Homo sapiens: one gene and its partner. The protein of the gene in region 2 interacts with the protein of the main gene of each other region in a biochemical or structural test. Each region holds a gene or a part of one and is shown on either strand. Other genes may lie near its edges.

The links. The genes of interacting proteins can lie anywhere in the genome.
Region 1: the proteins of UBR1 (region 2) and UBE2B form a complex in vitro, tested with the Homo sapiens proteins (2 studies listed by BioGRID and IntAct, with this or other methods).

The regions. Positions count from the first base shown.
Region 1 is NC_000005.10:134,378,069-134,381,568, reverse strand, and holds part of UBE2B (ubiquitin-conjugating enzyme E2 B), read right to left. Parts: intron 851-3,500; coding exon 761-850; intron 1-760. UniProt on the Homo sapiens protein: E2 ubiquitin-conjugating enzyme that accepts ubiquitin from the ubiquitin-activating enzyme E1 and transfers it to a E3 ubiquitin-protein ligase. In vitro catalyzes 'Lys-11'-, as well as 'Lys-48'- and 'Lys-63'-linked polyubiquitination.
Region 2 is NC_000015.10:43,019,039-43,022,538, forward strand, and holds part of UBR1 (E3 ubiquitin-protein ligase UBR1), read right to left. Parts: intron 2,338-3,500; coding exon 2,237-2,337; intron 1-2,236. UniProt on the Homo sapiens protein: E3 ubiquitin-protein ligase which is a component of the N-end rule pathway. Recognizes and binds proteins bearing specific N-terminal residues that are destabilizing according to the N-end rule, leading to their ubiquitination and subsequent degradation.

The sequences.
Region 1 (3,500 bases), on a different chromosome or scaffold from region 2:
TGGAAAAAATGGCCCATTCCTGTAATCACAGTGCTTTGGGAGGTCAAAGTGGGAGGACTGCTTGAGGCTAGGAGTTCAAGGACCAGCCTGGGCAACACACAGAGACTTTGTGTCTACAAAAAAGAAAAAGAAAACAAACAAAAAAATTAGCTGGGCATGGTGGTCCACACCTGTCGTCCCAGCTAGTTAGGAGTCTGAGGCAGGAGGATTACTTGAACCCAGGAGTTTGAGGTAACAGTGAACTGTGACTGTACCACTGCACTCCAGCAGGGGTGACAGAGTATAACTTTGTCTCTGAAGAAATAAGAAACAAACCAAAAATCCACAACAAACCCAGCACTTTGGGAGGCCAAGGTGGGCAGATCACAAGGTCAGGAGATCGAGACCATCCTGGCTAACATGGTGAAACCCCGTCTCTACTAAAAATATAAAAAATTAGCCAGGCGTGGTGGTGGACGCCTGTAGTCCCAGCTACTCACAAGGCTGAGGCAGGAGAATGGCGTGAACCCGGGAGGCGGAGCTTGCAGTGAGCCGAGATCGCGCCACTGCACTCCAGCCTGGGCGACAGAGCGAGACTCCGTCTCAAAAAAAAAAAAAAAAAAAAAAAAAAAAATCCACAACAAAATACGTGGCTCACATGGACATGGAAGCAACACCTACAAGTGAGCCCTAACAGTAAAAAGTAAGGTGAAAGAGCTAAAAGGAGGGAAACAACTCTTTTCCCCACTATCATCTGCAAAATCTATAAAATGCTACTTACCATTTGGATGAAACATTTTGGATAAAAACCTAACAGTTGGTGGTTTATTTGGATATTCTTCAGAAAATTCTATTACTAGTTTAAAAGTACCTAGAGAGAAAACAAAATAATTATAGTAAAGACAAGCACGACTTTTTAATCTCTTCATCAGTTCTCAACTGCATACTGGTTTTTGTACAACCACATAAAAGTTAGTATGTCAACGTTGGTTCGGCATACAAAACATCCTAAATATACTCTATTTATGTTAGAATGGTAACACGCAGCATTGGCAAGCGGTTGGGGAACAAGCACATTCATGTTGCTATTGGTGGGAGTGTTAACTGTCATATTTTTGGAAGGCAACTAGGCCCTAGCTACCAAGATTTAAAATGCATATTTGAAGAACTACAAATAGTTTATTATAGCTTAGAATGGGAGTTGGTTAAAGGATTTTGAGAGGGTCTGACTACCACATGGCAAAGGACCCTCCCAGGAGGTGGAGGTTGCAGTGAGCCCAGATCATGCCGCTATGCTCTGGCATGGGTGACAAAGCAAGACTCCGTCTCACACACACAAAAAAACTTTAACTCAGAAAATCTTCATTAAAAATAACTGTAGCCAGGTGGGGTGGCTCACGCCTGTAATTCCAGCACTTTGGGAGGCTAAGGTGGGCGGATCACCTGAGGTCAGGAGTTGAGACTAGCCTGGCCAACGTGGTCAAACTCCACCTCTACTAAAAGTACAAAAATGAGCTGGGTATGGGGGTGCCTGTAATCTCAGCTACTCAGGAGGGTGAGGCAAGAGAATTGCTTGAACCTGGGAGGCGGAGGTTGCTGTGAGCAGAGATCGCGCCATTGCACTCTAGTCTGGGTGACAAGAGCAAGACTCTGTCTCCAAAAAAAAAAGGTAGGTTAAACTGCAAACCCATTACACAGAATATAAATTAAAATTATATTTCTCCCCAAGTTGGTGATAAGTGTAAGCAATGTTTTACATATTTGCAACTGTCTCTTTAATGACTGGCTTAACAGAAGATAGCTGGATTCTCTTATCTGCTTCTGCACTCCATCTATTACAATACCGTTTAGTTTAAGTACATGAAGAAAATCTGGCCTCACACAAATATGTACTTGAAAAAAGGAGTACTTTCTTTCTTTCTTCCTTTTTTTTTTTTTTTTTTGTTGAGACAGAGTCTCACTGTTGCCCAGGCTGGAGTGCAATGGCACCATCTCAGCTTACTGCAGCCTCCGTCTCCTGGGTTCAAGCAATTCTCCTGCCTCAGCCTCTGGGGTAGCTGAGATTACAGGCACGTGCCATCCCGCCTGGCTCATTTTTGTATTTTTAGTAGAGACGACGTTTCACCATGTTGGCCAGGCTGGTCTTGAACTCCTGACCTCAGGTGATCTGCCCACCTTGGCCTCCCAAAGTGCTGGGATTACAGGCATGAACCACTGCACCCAGCAAAAAAAGTAGTATTTGAATAGCTTTTTCAGGTGACTGTAGCTATTCTGTTTTGATATTATACCAAAGAAGAAATGGTAGTTCTTTTAAAGGTTTGCTGCAATATAGAATCTGAAATTATTAGTCAACTTTTTGTACTCAGTTACATTAAAATCTGTTCACTTCACATACGTGTTTTACCCATTCATGGTTTTGTATTATTATTCATGGGACATCTGCAAAATATTGGGTGACTCGAGTTTACAGATCCTCCAAATGTTGCCATATTCCATTATATACTATCAAAAAAATCACAACAGGTAACACTACCCACTAATCTCATCAAAAAGTAAGTATCAGGAAGCTGTTATTTTATCAACAGCAACAAATATCTTCAGTTGCTATCCTTAACCTAACAACCCACTTAGATCCCCCCACTGTTTTTTTTTTTTTTTTTTGAGATGGAGTCTTGCTCTGTTGTCCAGGCTAGGGTGCAATGGTGCGATCTTGGCGCACTGCAACCTCTGCCTCCCAGGTTCAAGCAATTCTCCTGCCTCAGTCTCCCGAGTAGCTGGGATTACAGGTGCCCGCCACCACACCGAGCTTATTACATTACTTCTGAGAATATGTCTGCCATATATTCAAACCTGAATAACCACAGCTTGTCTGTATTTTCAAGTAAAAAATGTTCCATGAAAAAAAGTCATTCAAATTGCAACTCAAACAACTGTAGAAGTGCTTTTCTTCCAGACAACTATCATACTATGACATGCAGAAGTGCTTTGTTCATACATTCTACTTCATATCATACAGAATATTAAAAAGACAGATACTCGGCTGGGTGTGGCTCATGCCTCAGCACTTCGGGTGGCCAAGGTGGGCAGATCACCTGAGGTCAGGAGTTTAAGGCCCCAGCCTGGCCAACATGGTGAAACCCCATCTCTACTAAAAATACAAAAATTAGCCGGGCATGGTAGCACATGTCTGTAATCCCAGCTACTTGGAAGGCTGAGGCACGAGAATCACTTGAACCTCGGAGGCGGAGGCTTCAGTGAGCCAAGATTGCGCCTCTGCACTCCAGCCTGGGTGAGAGAGCGAGACAAAAAACAAAAAACAAACAAAAAAAACCCACATAGATACTCAAGGGTCCAGAGCTTCCTAATACTAATAAAAATGTCTTTAAATTAAGAAATTAAGAAAAATTGGTAACTTTTTTAAAGACAAGGTCTCACTCTGTCACCCAGGCTGGAGCTCAGTGGCTCCACCAGGGCTCACTGCAGCCTTGACCTCTTGGGCTCAGGTAATCCTCCCAAGTAGC
Region 2 (3,500 bases):
TTCAAGAAGAATTTTAATAATATCACTATCTTTTTTTTTTTGAGACGGAGTCTCGCTTTGTCGCCCACGCTGGAGTGCAGTGGTGTTATCTCGGCTCACTGCAAGCTCCACCTCCCGGGTTCAAGCCATTCTCCTGCCTCAGCCTCCTGAGTAGCTGGGACTACAGGTACCCGCCACCACACCTGGCTAATGTTTTTTGTATTTTTAGTAGAGACGGGGTTTCACCATGTTAGCCAGGATGGTCTCGATCTCCTGACCTCGTGACCCCGCCGCCTCAGTCTCCCAAAGTGCTGGGATTACAGGCGTGAGCCACCACGCCAGGCCAATAATGATATTACATCATGCTTAAGGACTGTTTCTAATAAAATGGTAAGAAGAGCTGCCCTCTTAAAAGTATAAATCAGTACCAAGATTTCCAATTGATAAGAATGTGAAAAATAACTACTTTATATATTCTGATTATCAAAACAATACTTACCTAAAAACATCAGAATATCTTAATGAATGCAATGAGTGCAGAAGCTCCATAATCCTGGCTTCAGGTTTTTTTTTTTTTTTTTTTGAGACAGAGTTTCACTCTGTCGCCCAGGCTGGAGTGCAGTGGTGCGATCTCGGCTCACTGCAACCTCCGCCCTCAGAGTTCAGGCGATTCTCCTGCCTCAGCCTCCTGAGTAGCTGGGATTACAGGCGCCTGCCACCACGCCTGCCACCACGCCCAGCTAATTTTTTTTTTTTTTTTGTATTTTTAGTAGAGACAGGGTTTCACCATCTTGGCCAGGCTGGTCTTGAACTACTGATCTTGTGATCCACCCGCCTCCGCCTCCCAAAGTGCTGGGATTACAGGCGTGAGCCACCGTGCCTGGCCGGTTTTATGTTTCTATGTGGAGGTTTTCCATTAAAGTAACATTCCTGGCCTCTCTCTCCCCTGCTTATTTAATTCACTCGTCTCCAAAGGCAATGCTATCTACTCAATAGCTCAAGCACCAAATCCAGGAGTCATCTTTGATTTCCTTTTTTCTGAGACAGACTCTTGTTCTGTTACCCAGGCTGGAGTGCAGTGGTGCGATCTTGGCTCACCGCAATCTCCACCTCCCTGGTTCAAGCAATTCTCCTGCCTCAGCCTCCCAAGTAGCTAGGACTACAGGTGTGCCCCACCATGCCTGGCTAATTTTTTGTATTTTTAGCAGAGATGAGGTTTCACCATGTTAGCCAGACTGGTCTCGAACTCCTGACCTCAGGTGATCTGCCTGCCTTGGCCTCCCAAAGTGCTGGGATTACAGGTGCTAGCCACCATGCCCAGCCTCATCTTTGATTTATTTCCTTCATCTCTCCCATCAGACTGATGAGCAAGTACTATAGATTTTATCTTCATACACCTTCGACATGCACCTTAATCAGTTCAGATTCTTACTATCTGCATCTTAGCCTAGGTCATGCTTATTTCATATCAAGATTACTGCAACAGTCTCCTAACAGTTTCCTTACTTGTATGCCTATCCCCCATAATCCATTTACTCCACAGCAGCCAATACCATCTTGTACAAATATAGATTAGGTCACTTAAAATCCTCCAATATTTTCCCATTGTCCTAAAAAATTATCACTTTATGCTGACTTATAAGGACCTACAAGATCCGGCCCCTGGCCACCCCTCTGATCTCATTGCCCACTTTTCCATCCCTCACCCATTATGTTCCAGCCATACTGACCTTCTTTCTGGCCACCACAGAGCTTTTGCACTGCTGTTCCCTCTTCCTGGAGTACTCTTCCAGACTCTTCTAAGACTGACTCCATGTCATTAAGGTCTTAGCTCTAATGTCGTGTTTTGAGAGAGGCCTTCCCTAATTACCCAAAGTAACCCCTTACTCATCTATTGAATTACCCTGATATTTTTGTTTATTTATTTGTTTAATGTCTGTCCCTCAACTGGAGTATATGTTCCATGATAGTAAGCACCTTGTCTGCCTTGTTCCATCTAGAAATCTATAAGTGAGCATGGCACATGGTAGGTTTTCAGTAAAGTTGACTAAATAACGACAAAAAAAATGAATAAATCTTAGTTTATTTTTAAAACTACAATAAAATATAGGAAAATAGAATTATTAACATGAAAAATAAGTGATTATGAAAACCAGTAGTAAATGTCTACAATGGTACAGTGGTTTAACACTGGAGGCAAGCAGAGAATTCTTAAATATTTAAACCAAGATATGATCACTTTACTTTTTTAGTTTACCTGAAGTATCCACGTTATCATGTCCTTCTGGCCTTCTAACTGGGGAATTCCTTTGAGTTTTTCCAAAAGCATTTGTATATTCATGGCTGAACTTCCCAATCCTTTTTTAAAACACAAAATCACACATCATAAATACATAAAGTCATCTCTTGGTATCCTCAGGGAATTGGTTTCAGGACCCCTGTGGACATCAAAGTCCACTAATGCTCAATTCCCTTATGTAAAATGGTGTAGTATTTGCATAAAATCTATACACATGCTTCTGTATGCTTTAAATCATCTCTAGATTACTTATAATGCCTAATACAATGTAAATGCTATGTAAATAGTTATTAGATAATATTGTTTAGGGAATAATGACAAGAAAAAAAAGTCTGTACATGTTCAGTACAGTGACAACCATCCTTTTTCCTTTTTCCCCCTGAATATTTTCAAACTGCGATGGGATGAATCCCTAGATATGGAACCCACAGATATGGAGGGTCAATTATGTCTTCATAATTATGTACAAATTACAATTTCTAGTTAATGTTATTTACATTGATAACCAAGGTTTGCCAATCAATCCCTTAACTTCATTAATTATTCAATGGACAAATCTGCAATTATATGAAGTACTGGATTACAATGATATGATCTACTAAATTTAAAAATGACTTTAAGTCTCTCTCTTACATCTTTTACTGGCACTGCTAAGTGAAAGCTACCCTAAATATCTGTCTCTGGTCTTTCCTCTGCTTGACTCAACATCTAAGCAAAAGTGCTTAATGAGAAACAAAATTGCCAAAAATATTGAAGTGGAGGACTGTATATCCATAAACTGAATAGGTTTTTGATGTCTTCAGGGATCTAAAAAATACAGCATGTAAATAGAAAATGTTTGTCTCCTATTGTTTTTATAATCAACATGCCTGGAATGTGCTTTGAAAAAAACTATCTTAATCAGGTAGCATTTATTAGAAATCTAATTTAAAACTATCCTTTTCTTCCAAGTTGAATACAACGCAAAATGAACGTTATCATTCAGATTTCTATCATTTAAAATTCAGAAACAATATCTTATTAAGACATGTCACTTGAATGCTATGGTTGACACAGCAGCAAATATTTGATAATACTGAGATGAGGAATGAAAGTTAAAAAATACCAATATATGCAACCAAAAAAAAAAAAAAGTGGGGCGATCATGTAGTAAAAAGATTGTAGTAAAGATTATAGTAAGGGATTAAAAAATATATTAGTATACTTGAAAATATTAGTTACA